Homo sapiens: one gene and its partner. The main gene of each other region encodes a partner of the protein of the gene in region 2 in a complex. Each region holds a gene or a part of one and is shown on either strand. Other genes may lie near its edges.

What was found. The genes of interacting proteins can lie anywhere in the genome.
Region 1: PRIM2 (region 2) and POLA2 share a complex: the UniProt entries of both Homo sapiens proteins name them as parts of the alpha DNA polymerase complex.

What each region holds. Positions count from the first base shown.
Region 1 is NC_000011.10:65,264,293-65,272,802, forward strand, and holds part of POLA2 (DNA polymerase alpha subunit B), read left to right. Parts: intron 1-2,289; coding exon 2,290-2,414; intron 2,415-3,184; coding exon 3,185-3,276; intron 3,277-4,379; coding exon 4,380-4,437; intron 4,438-8,510. UniProt on the Homo sapiens protein: Accessory subunit of the DNA polymerase alpha complex (also known as the alpha DNA polymerase-primase complex) which plays an essential role in the initiation of DNA synthesis.
Region 2 is NC_000006.12:57,642,204-57,648,434, reverse strand, and holds the end of PRIM2 (DNA primase large subunit), read right to left. Parts: intron 2,508-6,231; coding exon 2,277-2,507; 3' UTR 1,585-2,276; downstream 1-1,584. UniProt on the Homo sapiens protein: Regulatory subunit of the DNA primase complex and component of the DNA polymerase alpha complex (also known as the alpha DNA polymerase-primase complex) which play an essential role in the initiation of DNA synthesis.

The sequences.
Region 1 (8,510 bases), on a different chromosome or scaffold from region 2:
CCCTGACCTCCAGTGATCCTCCCACCTCGGCCTCCCAAAGTGCTGGGATTATAGGTGTGAGCCACCACACCTGTTCTACTTTTTGTATTTTCAGTAGAGACAAGGTTTCACCATGTTGGCCAGGCTGGTCTTCAACTCCTGACCTCAGGTGATCCGCCCACCCTGGCCTCCCAAAGTGCTGGGATTACACTGCGCCAGGCCCCTGGTCTCTTTACTCTGAGTCTTCCAGATGATTGTTTTCCACCTTCTCCTGTAACATCCTTCTGTCCCACCCTCACTCTCAGCTGACAAATTTCTATTATTTGCTGAAAAATGTAGAAGCATTAGAAAACTTCGATCAGCTACCACCATTATGTCTCACTGACCCATATCTGTGGCATATACCTAGCCTTCTTTCCTATTATAATGAATAAGCTTTCCGTATTCCTAGCAAAATCCAAGTCCTCCACTTGAGTCCTAAACCCCATTCCTTCTGAAGCAATTAAGGACATCACTGGTAATTCTCCTGTCTTACATATTTTCTATTTTCCTTGCTACAAGATTTTTTTCCTACTAGTATAGAAATGTGCTTCCAATCTTGCCTTTAAAATACTCTGTTGACCCTACTTCCCACTCCAGTTCTCTCCTTCCCAATTACAGCAGACCTCAAAAGGGTCGGCCGGGTGCGGTGGCTCACGCCTGTAATCCGAGCACTTTGGGAGGCGGAGGAGGGCGGATCACAAGGTCAAGAGATGGAGACCATCCTGGCCAACGTGGTGAAACCCGGTCTCTACTTAAAATACAAAAATTAGCTGGGCATGGTGGCGCATGCCTGTAGTCCCAGCTACTTGGGAGGCTGAGACAGGAGAATCGCTTGAATCGGGGAGGTGGAGGTTGCAATGAGCCGAGATCGTGCCACTGCATTCCAGCCTGGCAACAGAGTGCAACTCTGTCTCCAAAAAAAAAAGGGGGGGGGCCTTGCCATCTTTAAATATTTCCTCCTTAAATCCATTTCAGTAAGTTCTTTTGTTGCCACCACTTCACCAAAGCTGCTCTACTCAAGGTCACCAGTGACCTTCACCATGCTAAAACCAGTGATGAATTTTCAGTCCTCATCTTGAATTGAATTAGCACCGGCACTTGACACTGTTTGTCATTTTTTCTTTTTTTAAACACATTTTTCTTTTAGCTTCTTAGACACTACTAGTTTTTCTTTCTTTTTTTTCTGAGACAGGGTCTTGCTCTGTTGCCCAGGCTGGAGTATAATGGGCAAATCACAGCTCACTGCAGCCTCAACCTCCTTGGCTCAAGCAATCCTTCCACCTCAGCCCCCAAGTAGCTGTAACTACAGGCACATGCCACCAAGCCCACCTAATTGTTGTATTTTTTATAGAAACGGTTTCACCCTGTTGCCCAAGCTGGTCTCAAACTTCTGGGTTCAAACAGTCTGCCCACCTCAACCTCACAAAATACTGGATTACAGGCGTGAGCCACTGCATCCGGCTTACTCCTAGTTTTTCTTCAGCTTTGCTTGTGTCACCGCTTCTCAGGCTTTGCCGATTCATCCTCAGAGGCCCTAAGGCGCCCCAAGACTCAAGCCTGGGATCTTTTCTCCCTTCTAGATACGCTCACTCCCTTGGCGATCTCACCTGGGGTCTCATAGCTTTATATCCCATGTATTTACTGATGGTTCCCAAATTTATACCTCCGCCCACAACCCTTGCCTGAACTACAGGCTGGTTTGTTCAGCCTGCTGTCTCCAGTTGGATGTCTAAATGGCACCTCAAACTCTGCATGTCTAAAACTAAGCTCCTGGTATCTCCTCTCTCTCCTCAGAGTAGTTCCTCTGGCTCTTTTCCCCATCTCAGTTAATAGGGACGCCACTCTTCCTGTTGCACAGGCTAAAAATATCAGCATCATCCTTGACTTTCTTTTTCTCATACCTTACATTCAGTTAGCAGATCCCACTGGCTTCACTTCCAGCATGTAAAGTCCTATCCAGAGTCCAGCCACTTCTCGCCATCTCCACTGCCACCACCTTGATCCAAGCCACCATCATCTCTCACCTGGGCTTTTCCATGATTCTTTAATTGGTCCCCCTGATTCTGCCCTTATCCTCTTTTGTCTCCCCTCAGTGGTGAGCTTTGTAAGGACAAGGATGCTTCTGTTTTCTCATTGCCCAAAACAGTGCCTGGCACTAATAGATTCTGAATAAACATTGATGGAGTAAACCAGGATTATTTTTGCTTTTCTAGGTGAAACTTCGAGAAATGAACTAAGTTTTTACTTGTCCAATTTTCCTTTCTACAGTGGTAGAGCTTTGTGTTCAGTATGGACAGAATGAGGAGGGAATGGTAGGCGAGCTTATAGCCTTCTGCACCAGCACACATAAAGTTGGCCTTACCTCAGAGATCCTGAACTCTTTTGAGCATGAGGTAAGAACAAAATGAAAGCAAACTAATAATGTGATTCTCCATTTCTGCTCTACAGGGGAGGCATTGTGATATATTGAGAGGAGTGTGGGCTTTCGAGTCAGGCCTGGATTCCAGTCCCAGTGTGAGCTTGGACAAACTATGTCCCTGAGCCTCAGTTTCCTTTTCTGACATTGGGTCTAATAATCTGTATTTTTTATGATTGTTATAAGAATTAAATGGGGCTGGGCGCCGTGGCTCATGCCCATAATCCCAGAACTTTGGGAGGCCGAGGCAGGCAGATCACAAGGTCAGGAGTTCAAGACCAGCCTGGCCAACGTGGTGAAACCCTGTCTCTACTAAAAATACAAAAATTAGTTGGGCATGGTGGCAGGCGCCTGTAATCCCAGGTACTCGGAAAGCTGAGGAAGGAGAATCGCTTGAACCGAGGAGGTGGAGGTTGCAGTGAGCTGAGATTGCGCCACTGCACTCCAGCCTGGGACAGAGCGAGACTCCATCTCAAAAAAAAAAGAAATGAGAATGGACATAAAGCACTTAAAACTATGCCCAGCAGGTGATAAGTCTTCACCAAATAATTGGTATTATTAGGATTGTTATATGTTATAGACAGTCATGGGATGTCTTTGTTTTTAGTCTGTGTGTATCTTAATTCTTTGAGGAATGTTAGATCTTTGATTATATTTTGAATACCTTTTATTATCTCAAGGCTTTTGAAAACACCTCTGCTATTACTTGACTATGAAGTACTGTATTCACTATCTTTTCTTTTTCAGTTTCTGAGCAAAAGATTATCGAAAGCCAGGCATAGTACCTGCAAGGACAGTGGCCATGCAGGAGCTAGAGACATTGTTTCCATTCAAGAGCTGTATCCTTTTCTGCTGAAGGTCTTTGCACCAAGCTACATGTTGTATTTTATAATTTGTCTGTAGTCGCATGTGTAATTTAAAAACAAATAATAAGGCCGGGCACGGTGGCTCAGGCCTGTAATCCCAGCACTTTTGGAGGCCGAGGCAAGCAGATCACTTGAGCCCAGGAATTTGTGACCAACCTGGGCAACATGGTGAAACCCTGTCTCTATCAAAAGTACAAATTTTTTTTTTTTTTTGAGTTGGAGTTTCGCTCTTTTTGCCCAGGCTGAAGTGCAATGGTGCAATCTCAGCTCACTGCAACCTCTGCCTCCCAATCTCAAGTGATTCTCCTGCCTCAGCCTCCTGAGTAGCTGGGATTACAGGTGCACACCACCACACCTGGATAATTTTGTATTTTTTTTGGTAGAGACAGGGTTTCACCATGTTGGCCAGCTGGTCTCGAACTCCTGACCTCAGGTGATCCGCCTGCCTAGGCCTCCCAAAGTCCTGGGATTACAGGCGTGAGTCACCGTGCCCGGCCAAAGTACAAATTAAAAAATAATAATAATAAGCTGGGTGTGGTGATGTACGCCTGTAGATCCAGCTAGTTGGTAGGCTGAGGTGAGAAAATCTCTTGAACCTGGGATGTGGAAGTTGCAGTAATCTGAGATCAGGCCACTGCACTCCATCCTGGACGACGAGGAAACCCCATCTCAATAATAATAATAGTAAAAATTGCCTAATATTGAGATTTCTTCTAGCAATCAGCCCTTGCCTTATATGAAAGTTTATTATTATTATTATTATTTTTTTTTTTTGAGATGGAGTCTCGCTGTGTCGCCCATGCTGGAGTGCAGTGGTGTGATCTCAGCTCACTGCAAGCTCCGTCTCCTGGGTTCATGCCATTCTCCTGCCTCAGCCTCCCGAGTAGCTGGGACTACAGGCGCCCGGCTAATTTTTTGTATTTTTTTTAGTAGAGACGGGGTTTCACTGTGTTAGCCAGGATGGTCTCTGTCTCCTGATCTCGTGATCCGCCCATCTCGGCCTCCCAAAGTGCTGGGATTACAGGCATGAGCTACCGTGCCCAGCCATTATTGTTTTTCTTAACCAGTGTTCTTAGAATTGAAGTGGAAGAAGAAGAGGAAATCCTCTTGAACTCTTACACCACACCTTCAAAGGTAAGTAAACAGTGTTTGGACATTGCATTTTACAAGTAACATTTTAAAATAGTTTCACAACATTTGAAGATCTGAGGGAAAAAATCAACCACTCTCATGCATTTCCTACTATATTTCCACTTATACATCTTCCTTTCTGATCATATGTCTAAATGTTTTACATAATGGCAGTCCTTATAAACATATAGTTATCCTGCTTTTCTCAGCACAACATAAAACATTTCTATAAACATAATTTCTCCATAATTGCCCTTTTTGAATAGTTTCATAGTTTTATACTATAATTGAATAATTCAGTTCTGTGTTGGATCCCAGTGTGAAAGGTCAAGTAGGGTAGTGGAAAAGCATTGCCTTCAAAGTCTGAGTCAGAAGACCTAGGTGACCTGGAGTGAGTTGTTTTATCTCTCTGAGACAGTTTCCTTATCCATAATATCAGGATTCATTCATTCAGTTATCCAGCAACAACTATGTGGCCAGGCGCAGTGGCTCATGCCTGTAATCCCAGCACTTTGGGAGGCTGAGGCAGGCGGATCACGAGGTCAGGAGATCGAGACCATCCTGGTTAACATGGTGAAACTCTGTCTCTACCATAAATACAAAAAAAGAAATTAGCCGGGCGTGGTGGTGGGCGCCTGTAGTCCCAGCTACTTGGGAGGCTGAGGCAGGAGAATGGCGGGAACCTGGGAGGCAGAGCTTGCAGTGAGCCGAGATCGCGCTACTGCACTCCAGCCTGGGCGACAGAGCGAGACTCCGTCTCAAAAAAAAAAAAAAAAACAACAACAACAACTATGTACTGCACTAGACATTGAGTAAACAATGGTGAATGAAACAGACATGGATGGGCTCTGCCCTCAAGAAGCTGACAGCCAGTGCACAATATCCCCCATCTTGGAGGGCTTGAAGAGGAAATAAATAGGTAAAGTATCAGGCCCTATGCAATGTATTCAGTAATGGTAACTATTCTTTATACTAACTAAATAAGTTTGTAGACATTCATAAACATGGAGTGAGCCTTAATTATTCAAAGTAAACTACATCATAAGAAAGAGGTAATTTACATTGCCCTATGCAATGTATTCAGTAATAGTAATTATTCTTTTTTGTTGTTGTTGTTGTTGTTTTGAGATGGAGTTTTCCTCTTGTTGCCCAGGCTGGAGTGCAATGGCACGATCTCGGGTCACTGCAACCTCCGCCTCCCGGGTTCAAGCAATTCTGCCTCAGCCTCCTGAGTAGCTGGGATTACAGGCATGCGCCACTACGGCCAGCTAATTTTTGTATTTTTAGTAGAGACGGGGTTTCACCATGTCAGCCAGGCTGGTCTCGTACTCCTCACCTGCGGTGATCCACCTGCCTCGGCCTCCAAAGTGCTGGGATTACAGATGTGAGCCACCGTGCCCAGCCCAGTAATTATTCTTTATACTAACTAAATAAATTTGTAGAAATTCATAAACATGGAGGGAGCCTTAATTATTCAAAGTAAATTACATCATAAGAAAGAAGGTAAGGGCTGGGTGCAGTGGCTCATGCCTGTAATCCCAGCACTCCGGGAGACCAAGGCAGGAGGATCAGTGACCAGAGATCATGCCGCTGCTCTACAGCCTGGATGACAAAGTGAGACCCTGTCTCAGGAAGAAAGAAGGTAAATAGTTTAGATATGCCTGTGGAGAGTAAGAGGGCCAAAAATGTGCCCCATGAAGTTGCTAACACAAAACCAGGTGCATATAATATTAAAAGAAATAATTAGGTGTTTGTTAGAGTTTCTTAAAATTGGAGAGACTATAACTCATTTGATTTTCCTCCTAAAGTGGTTTTCTGAGTCCATATCCCAGTGAAGGACACCTCCGTTCTTCCATTGACTCAGGCCAAGAACCTTGGAGACCTCCTTAAATCCTTTTTCTCTCACACCCCACATCCAACTTAGCTACCAGTCCTGTCATCCCTCTCCAGGATCTGGCCACCTCTCACCATTTCCACTGCTACCACCAGGTCCACAGCATCATTGTCTCCTGAATGATTGGGACAGCCTCCTAACTAGTCCATTGGCTTCTTTCTGCCATATCCACCTCTAACCACCTCTCCACCCAGCAGCCAGAGTGCTCCTTTCCAGCAAAAGGTCAGGTTTTCTTGCTCACATCTCTCCCACTGGCTTTTCGTCTTTCCTCCTGATATGCAAAGTTTGAACCAGCATATGTGAAGTTCTGTAGGAGCTGGCCCCCTCCTCCTTCTGTCCTCTTTCCCTGCTCCCCTTTGCTCTCTGCTTCTGCCGTGCCAAATATGGGTTCATTTCCTATGTCTCCTTGTCAGGGAACAAGCCTGCCTAAAAGAACAAAGCCCTTCTTCTGTTTTATTTTCTTGCTTTATTTTTCTCCTTATTATTCTCTTGCTTTATTACCACCAAACATGTTATATACTTACTTTTTTGTTTTAGTCGGCCTTCCCTCCATTAGATGGAAGCTCCTTGAGAATAGAGACTTTGTTTTTACTTGCTGCTGTTTTCCCAGCACCCTGGCATGTTAATAGTTGTTGAAAGATCTCTGAATAAGGGAGTGTGGTTGGCTCTCTCAATTGCAATACCAATGGGACCACCACGGTTTTATCTGGTTAACAGCTTCACAGATCCAGAATTTTATGTAATTTGTCTGTGTATCCAGAATTGATCATATTCCGGAGTCTGACTCATGGTAACCCAGCTGTCAGTAGACTGATGCGTAAGCCAGGTGCAAATTTGTTTACTTTACTATTGAAGTAGATACCCTTCCAATGACTGAAATCCCATATTTAGGATACCCCATTCCTGCTATGGAAATACTTAGGAGACTAAATTGTGAATCAAAGTTTGTGACTGTGAGGCCGAGTGCAGTGGCTCACACCTGTAATCCCAGCACTTCGGGAGGCTGAGGCAGGTGGATCACTTGAGGTCAGGAGTTCGAGACCAGCGAAACTCCATCTCTACTCAAAAAATTAGCTGGGCATGGTGGTGGTGCCTATAATCCCAGCCACTCAGGAGGCTGAGGCAGGAGAATCGCTTGAACCCGGGAGGTGGAAGTTGCAGTGAGCCAAGATTACACCACTGCCCTCCAGGCTGGATGACAGAACCAGACTCCGTCTGAAAAAAAAAAAAAAAAAAAAGTTTGTGACTGTGAATTCCACGCTAAATGAGTTGGAGTGAAATGTTGAGCAAACAATATGTCCAGGCTAGAGATACGTAAAATGCTTAGAACAGTACTTATCACATGGAAATTGTTCAGTCACTGTTAGGCCATGCATCAATGGCAGCATGATAAAATAGTCAAAGTGTGGCCAGGCATGGTGGCTCACACCTGTAATCCCAGCACTTTGGGAGGCCGAGGTGGGAGGATCACTGGAGGTCAGGGGTTCGAGACCAGTCTGGCCACCATGGTGAAACCCCATCGCTACAAAAGTACAAAAATTAGCTAGGCATGATGGTGGGTGTCTGTAATCCCAGCTACTCGAGAGGCTGAGACAGAAGAAACACTTGAACCCAGGAGGCGGAGGTTGCAGTGAGCTGAGATCATGCCATTGCACTTCAGCCTGGGCGAGAAAGTGAGACTCCATCTCAAAAAAAAAGAAAAGTGTGAATGTTGGCCTTTCCATACAAACAGTGCCAGGCTGAGGTTGCCTGACCCTTGTCAGGTCTTGGGAACAGGTGTCCCTCTGCTATAGAGGTAAATATGATATGTCAGTGATTTTAGCTTATCACTATTAAATATTTCACCTGTACGATTGACAGCTGTTCTTTTGCTTCCGTGTTCACCATAAATCTGCTGATGATTTGGCTGCCATGTCCCTAACGGAGAGAATGTGTTAGCCTGAGGACTTGACGTTCCCATACCCTTGGCAATTATATTTCTAGTAAATTAATAAACTGGCATCCTTGGTTATAATTTGATTTTCTCTGTGAGTGTGAGAATGTGCTTACCCTAGGATATGAAAATATGGTACCATTGGTGACTACATTTCTGATTAAAAATGATGAAACCGGCCACTGCGGTGGCTCACGCCTGTAATCCCAGCACTTTGGGAGGCTGAGATGGGTGGATCACCTGAGGTCA
Region 2 (6,231 bases):
CCAGTATAAAATAAACAGTCCAGTAAGCTGCATCTACCATGCCGTTAAGGACTCTGTCCTTTTAGCTGGTGGGAGCACAGGCTTCATAAAAGAAGGAGAACATGAAGCAGTAGAAAAAGACAGCCTTGCAAAATGCTGCCAGATACAAAACATTCTATCAGAAAATTTCTCATTGAACTACAGTGGCGAGAGTGCTTCTAATATCTCCCTTCTTTTAACACAGCGAAGACCTACATTTCTATGCTCGGCTTTCTAAAGCTAACTTAATTCTGTGGTTAAAACAGCTCCAGGTAGCACTTGTTCTTTTTTTTTTTTTTTAAAGAAGGACTTGTGGTTTTGCAGTCCATGGATAAAGTGGTAGGCAATCATCAGATTCCTGTTGAGAACGACAAATGATGAAGGGAGTAGCAGATGGTTTCAGAAGGCAGAGATTTATAGGGGTAATTTGTAGTGGAATAATACTATTTTCTGAACTAGGTAATAATAATTCACCAAGACAAGTAAAAGTTTAGATAGATAGTATCTCATTTAATTATATGTTGCTAAATATTCCAAGAAATCTTTGACTCAGAAGCCTAAAATGAAAACTCAATTAGTTGACATTTTTAGTTTCTGATGATCTGATCCTGTTTAATCCTTTTCATCATGATGCAGTTTATCACATGATTAAAAATATGGTGCTGCTAACAGTCTAGTTTTCTGAATACAATGTGCTCTTTTCAATTTAGTTACTATCTGATTCAAAAGGATAAAAGTATCCCTCTTTACCAGGAAAAGAAGACAGAAATAGACGAATACTTTTCACATATTCCAAGGTAATAGATGAGGAAGAACTATGTTTCAAACAGGGTTTCCTGAGCACCCCAAATCCTATTGGTGAGTGAGTAGAGCCCCAGGAGGAAATCACTATTTAGATGAGGGTATCCACAATGGCACTGCTCCACAAGGCATACGTGCCAGGGATCATCAACTTCACCTTACTCCCTTGACAAAAGCAGGCAGAGAGAACAGGGCATTGATCTCGTATGTTTGTAATCATCCACAACATTTATTAAATTCTATTGCTGGCACTGAAAGGAGGGGGTTACTATAAGTATCACTATTCATTGCTCAAGTAAATTAATTTAATTTACCAAATCTATTTGGTAATTCACAGCAACTACAGAAGTAATAAGGTATGGAAGTTGGAGGGTAAAATAAACACTTTATTTTATATGTACAACCTTCTTGCTTGGTAATTGTCTATTCTTCATGAACCTGTCCCCAGAGTAATGGCAGCAGATAAGACGTGCCATTATTTTACATAATAAAATATCCCTATTATTCCTTAATAAATATAACTGGCTATACTTTATGTTAATTCCCAAGTCACAGTTCACTCAGGAGGGTCTGGTGCCACTCAAAGGTGCCTGATGTAGAATAACCACAAATAGGTCAACTCTTAAAAAAAGGTAAAGAAAAGTTTAAAATCTTCATTAGTGATCAGCAGTGTGTTGGATACTCCAAATTACCATTTTAAAACTGAAGTAATGTCCAATCTGTTACGACATAAGACTCTCCCAATTATACGCAGACACTGTCATGTACACTTTGATATTTATTAACAAAAATGGTCCAGAAAAGGATTGAGTCAAAATTACAAAGTGATTAAGAGTTAAAACAAAAGTTGTTCTTTATTGTAGTTTCTGGGGGACTTTAACCAGTCCCCAAAGCTGTTTTTATCTCCTAAAATAGGACTTAAATGACATCACTCAAGTGACAGATTTTAATAGAAACTCCTCCTCTTTCCTTCTGTCAAAGCAAAATATAGTGAAAGTCTCTGTTGTTACCTCAAACCTCCTTTCCTAATAAGTGTGCATGCCTGTAGATGGATTGGGATGCAGTGAAGAGAGAAGTTAAACAAAAAGGTTAAAAAAAAAAAAAAGGCCAGGCACAGTGGCTCACAACCGTAATCCCAGCACTCTGGGACGCTGAGGTGTGAGGATCGCTTGAGCCCAGGAGTCTGAGATCTGCCTGGGCAACATAGGGAGACCCCCCACCTCTACAAAAAAAAATTGAAAAAAATTATCTGGATATGAGGTGCACACCTGTGGTCCTAACTACTTGGGAGGCTGAGGTAGGAGGATCACTTGAGCTGGGAAGGTCAAGGCTGCAATCAGCTGTAATTGTGTCACTGCACTAAGCCTTGGTGACAGAGTGAAACCCTTTTTCAACAACAAAGGCAAAATCTTAAAAACAGGAAACAGGCTATTGAGGAAAAAGGGTTATAAAACTGCCTAAGAATCTTCACTAAAGTAATCTTCTAGTCCTTCCATATCCATTTCCAGAGAGGAATTTAAAGAGGCCAGAGCAGATGATGCATCCTTGGTTTTCTGGACACTTGGTTTGGGTTGAGGAGTTTCTGGTTGGATAGGTTCCTTCTTTATGTCTTTACCACCATTTAGAATACGTTGGCTCTCACAAAAGAACTGATTAGGATGATTCAAAGAAAAGCCACAATCATCCACCTGTAAAGGAAGGAAATTTATATTGCATTAATGCATGGCAAAGCTATAAATATATGAGTTTCAAAAGCTGTTTTAGTACTTGTTTAAAACTTAATACCTGAAACATGGATTCTAGCTGTTTGCATTCTAACACTTAATCAGCTACTTACACCATTTCATTCAAAGAGAGCTTCAACCACTACCCAAACCTAAATGGCTCCCACATTTATATTTCTAGTCTGAGCCTCTGTGTTTGGCTCCAGTTCCCTATCTAGTTTCAGTCCCATATCCAACACCTACTCAACATCTAAGATGGCTCAAAGGCAGCTCAAACCCAACAGGAAACGTATCCTTTCCCCTCTCCCCATCCTTTGCTCTCAGTGATTGGTATCACCATTCATCCTTGGGGCATACTAGACACCTTTCTCTCACCTCCCCAGCCCCCAACTCCCACCTGCCACCTCCCATCTACACCAAGCCCTCAATTCTGGCAATACCCAAAACATTACCAATTCTGGTTGACAATTACGTCAAAACAAAAAATTAGAAAACTATAAAAATATGTTTGGAATACAAATGTGTGTGTGTGTGTGTGTGTGTGTGTGTGTGTGTGTGTGTGTGTGTGTGAATGACATTGTATGTTAGTGAGGCACAGGTTAGGGACCTGTGTGATTCATTATTGTATCCCCAGTTCCAAGCAAAAGGCCTACCACATTGTAGGCCAGTAAATATTTGTGGGTTTTTAAGTGATCGTAAAATCATTTTTGATCATTTTGATACTGGTCCCTGATACCACTTGTGTTTTAGAGCTGACTTGTAAGTCTGGCATATGCACTCATTTAGTATGATATAAACTGAAAAAGCAACCTAAGTCAATGTAATTCTTCATTCTAATCTTGGCCTTTCCTTGGTCTTTTTACAGAAAATCTCTTCTTGTAAATTTCACTGTGACTGAATACAAACATGCCTGGTTCATAACTTATGTTATTTTTTCTCAAATACTATCATTAAACTTTAATTTTGAGTATCATTTCAAATTATGCACTCTAGTAATCTCTCCTTATATTCAGTTTCACTTTCCACAGTCTCAAATCCCTGCCTTCTCGCCTTCTGCAGTTGGAGTTGACAACAAAAATATCATTTTGCTTGAGTGAGTGACTGTTGGTTTCTTGGGTGGTATTTTCATTTATCAAGTTTTTGGAAACTGAGAAGTTATTCCATTTCTTTTGTTCATCTGTCTTGTATTAACTAATCCTTTTACGTCTCACTCTTCGTACTGAAGTGACTTGCACACTGTAGGTATCTAATAAATATTTGGTGAAGTGAACCCAGAAATAGTGTATACCAGTGATAATTTTGCATATTTAATTAAAGCCTTACTATATAAAAGACTGTGTTATAAACTATTCACTATTCAGCATACAGGAATACATTTGACTAACTCAAATTTCCAACCCAGTAAGTCATATACTTAAAAACCTCTACCAAGAATGGAGAACTGATGAGGGTCACAGATAAAGGCCTATTACACTCCACAGTAGAGAGAAATTTCGGCTGAGGAGATCAAGGAAGGCTTTGTAAGAGGAGTGCTATTTGAGTTGCGTCTGGAAAGATGGAGAGGGTGAAAAGCTGGGATGATGAGGGGAAAGGCAATATTTGCAGCAGGACCACATGAGCAAGGTAAAGAGGGAATGTCCTGGGAAAGCAAATATTAAATAGTTCACATAGCCTACTATGAAAGGCACATACAAGGAAACAATAAGGAATGAGGTTGGAAAGACAGGCAGGGGCCAGCCTGAGAGAGCCTTGAAAATCAGGGTAAGTGGTCAAGACCTAATTCTCTAGGCAACACAGAGTCACCAAAAACCCTTAAAAAGAGACGTGGTGTGATTAAAGCTATGTATAATCTTTTAGTAGATTAAAATGAATTGGCCAGGGAAAAAGGGGTTGCTGCCATGGTCTAGAATGAACCCTACTGGTGGACGGACCAGCAGACAGAAACATGAGTCTTTTCTGGTAATACTTATCTAAGCACCCTAGGAATCTCTGATTCTCTTTTGCTAGTTGTTAATACATGTTAGGCTAATTTTATAGTAATTCCAGTGTGTAACAGATGGATAGTATACAGACTGATTTTAAGAGTTATAGATCATTAAGAACAAATTTTTATCTTTGCTTCATTTTTTTAACTTAGCTGCTTGATTTCAAAATGTTTCTGAAATGTTTTATAATTTTTATTAACAATGGAATCATTTGTGAACTTTTTTATTACATTCAATTTTCACCCAATTCATTAAAAACTGGGAAATCCAATATAAATTTTGCATTTTGCAATGTGTTTCACAAAAAGTATGTTTATTGTCTAATACATTTTAATCAGAAGGCTTTACAGTTTGTAAAATAGTTTGTAAACAGAGAATCAGAGATTAGAAAGACCTTGGGGAATCCATTAAATTCAATCTCCTCCATGTACAGAGGCCTAAGGAGAATAGATGGTTTATTCAAGGTCATAGAATTAGTAACTGGTTTTGTCTGAATTAAAATTCAGGCCTTCTGACTAGATCATTAGTTGCTCTGAAATCTGTTTTAAGAGATTGTATGCAAAATCATACTGATAATGATATCTCCATTATAAATTTTATTTCTAGAGATAAACTTGGCTACAAAGATTAGAAAAACATAGTTGTACTATTTCATGCAAAAATAACCTAGTATCTTATGCTATAATAATATCTTGGCATTTTCTATACCTCGCTTCAAGTTGTCAGTTAGCAATACATTTATTAGACTTCAATGTGCACAAAATAGGGTAATCTTTTTAAAGTCTGATTTTCTCCATCTATGAAATGGAGATAACAGTGTTAGGTCATAGGGTTGCCATGGGAAAAGTAAATAAAAATGAATGTTAAAAAAAATTGTTCTATGAAATCTAAATAAAATGTTTTTAAAGAGTCAAGAAAAGCAAGTCACTTAAAAAAAAGGTGAAAGTCACAGAAGGAGAGGGAGAAAGATCCTATTGCTTTGCATATATCAAGTTCCTTTTCTACTTTAAGGAATCCAAACTGGAAATTGCTGATGCTGTATTATGGGTATAGTTTATAAAAGAAAGATAAAATCAAATTCCAAACACTAAACGATACTCAAAAGACCCTGCCCTAACTAATAAATGGCATTTAAATGACTTAACTTTAAGATATAATATTTAAGGGGCTGGGCGTGGTGGCTCACGCCTGTAATCCCAGCACTTTGGGAGGCCGAGACGGGCGGATCACGAGGTCAGGAGATTGAGACCATCCTGGCTAACACGGTGAAACCCCGTCTCTACTAAAAATACAAAAATTAGCCGGGCATGGTGGCGCGTGCCTGTAGTCCCAGCTACACGGGAGGCTGAGGCAGGAGAATGGCGTGAACCCGGGAGGCGGAGCTTGCAGTGAGTCGAGATCGCGCCACTGCACTCCAGCCTGGGCGACAGAGCGAAACTCCGTCTCAAAAAAAAAAAAAAAAAAAAAAAAAGATATAATATTTAAGGTATGTGCATATCGTTAATGAATCCTCATTTTAATTAATATTTTTTAAATTATACTTAAAGTTCTGGAGTCCATGTGCAGAACGTGCAGGTTACATAGGCATACACATGCCATGGTGGTTTGCTGCGCCCACCAACCTGTTATCTACATTAGGGACTTCTAATGCCATCCCTCCCCTAGCACAACCCCCCCAAACAGGCCCTGGTGTGTGATATTTC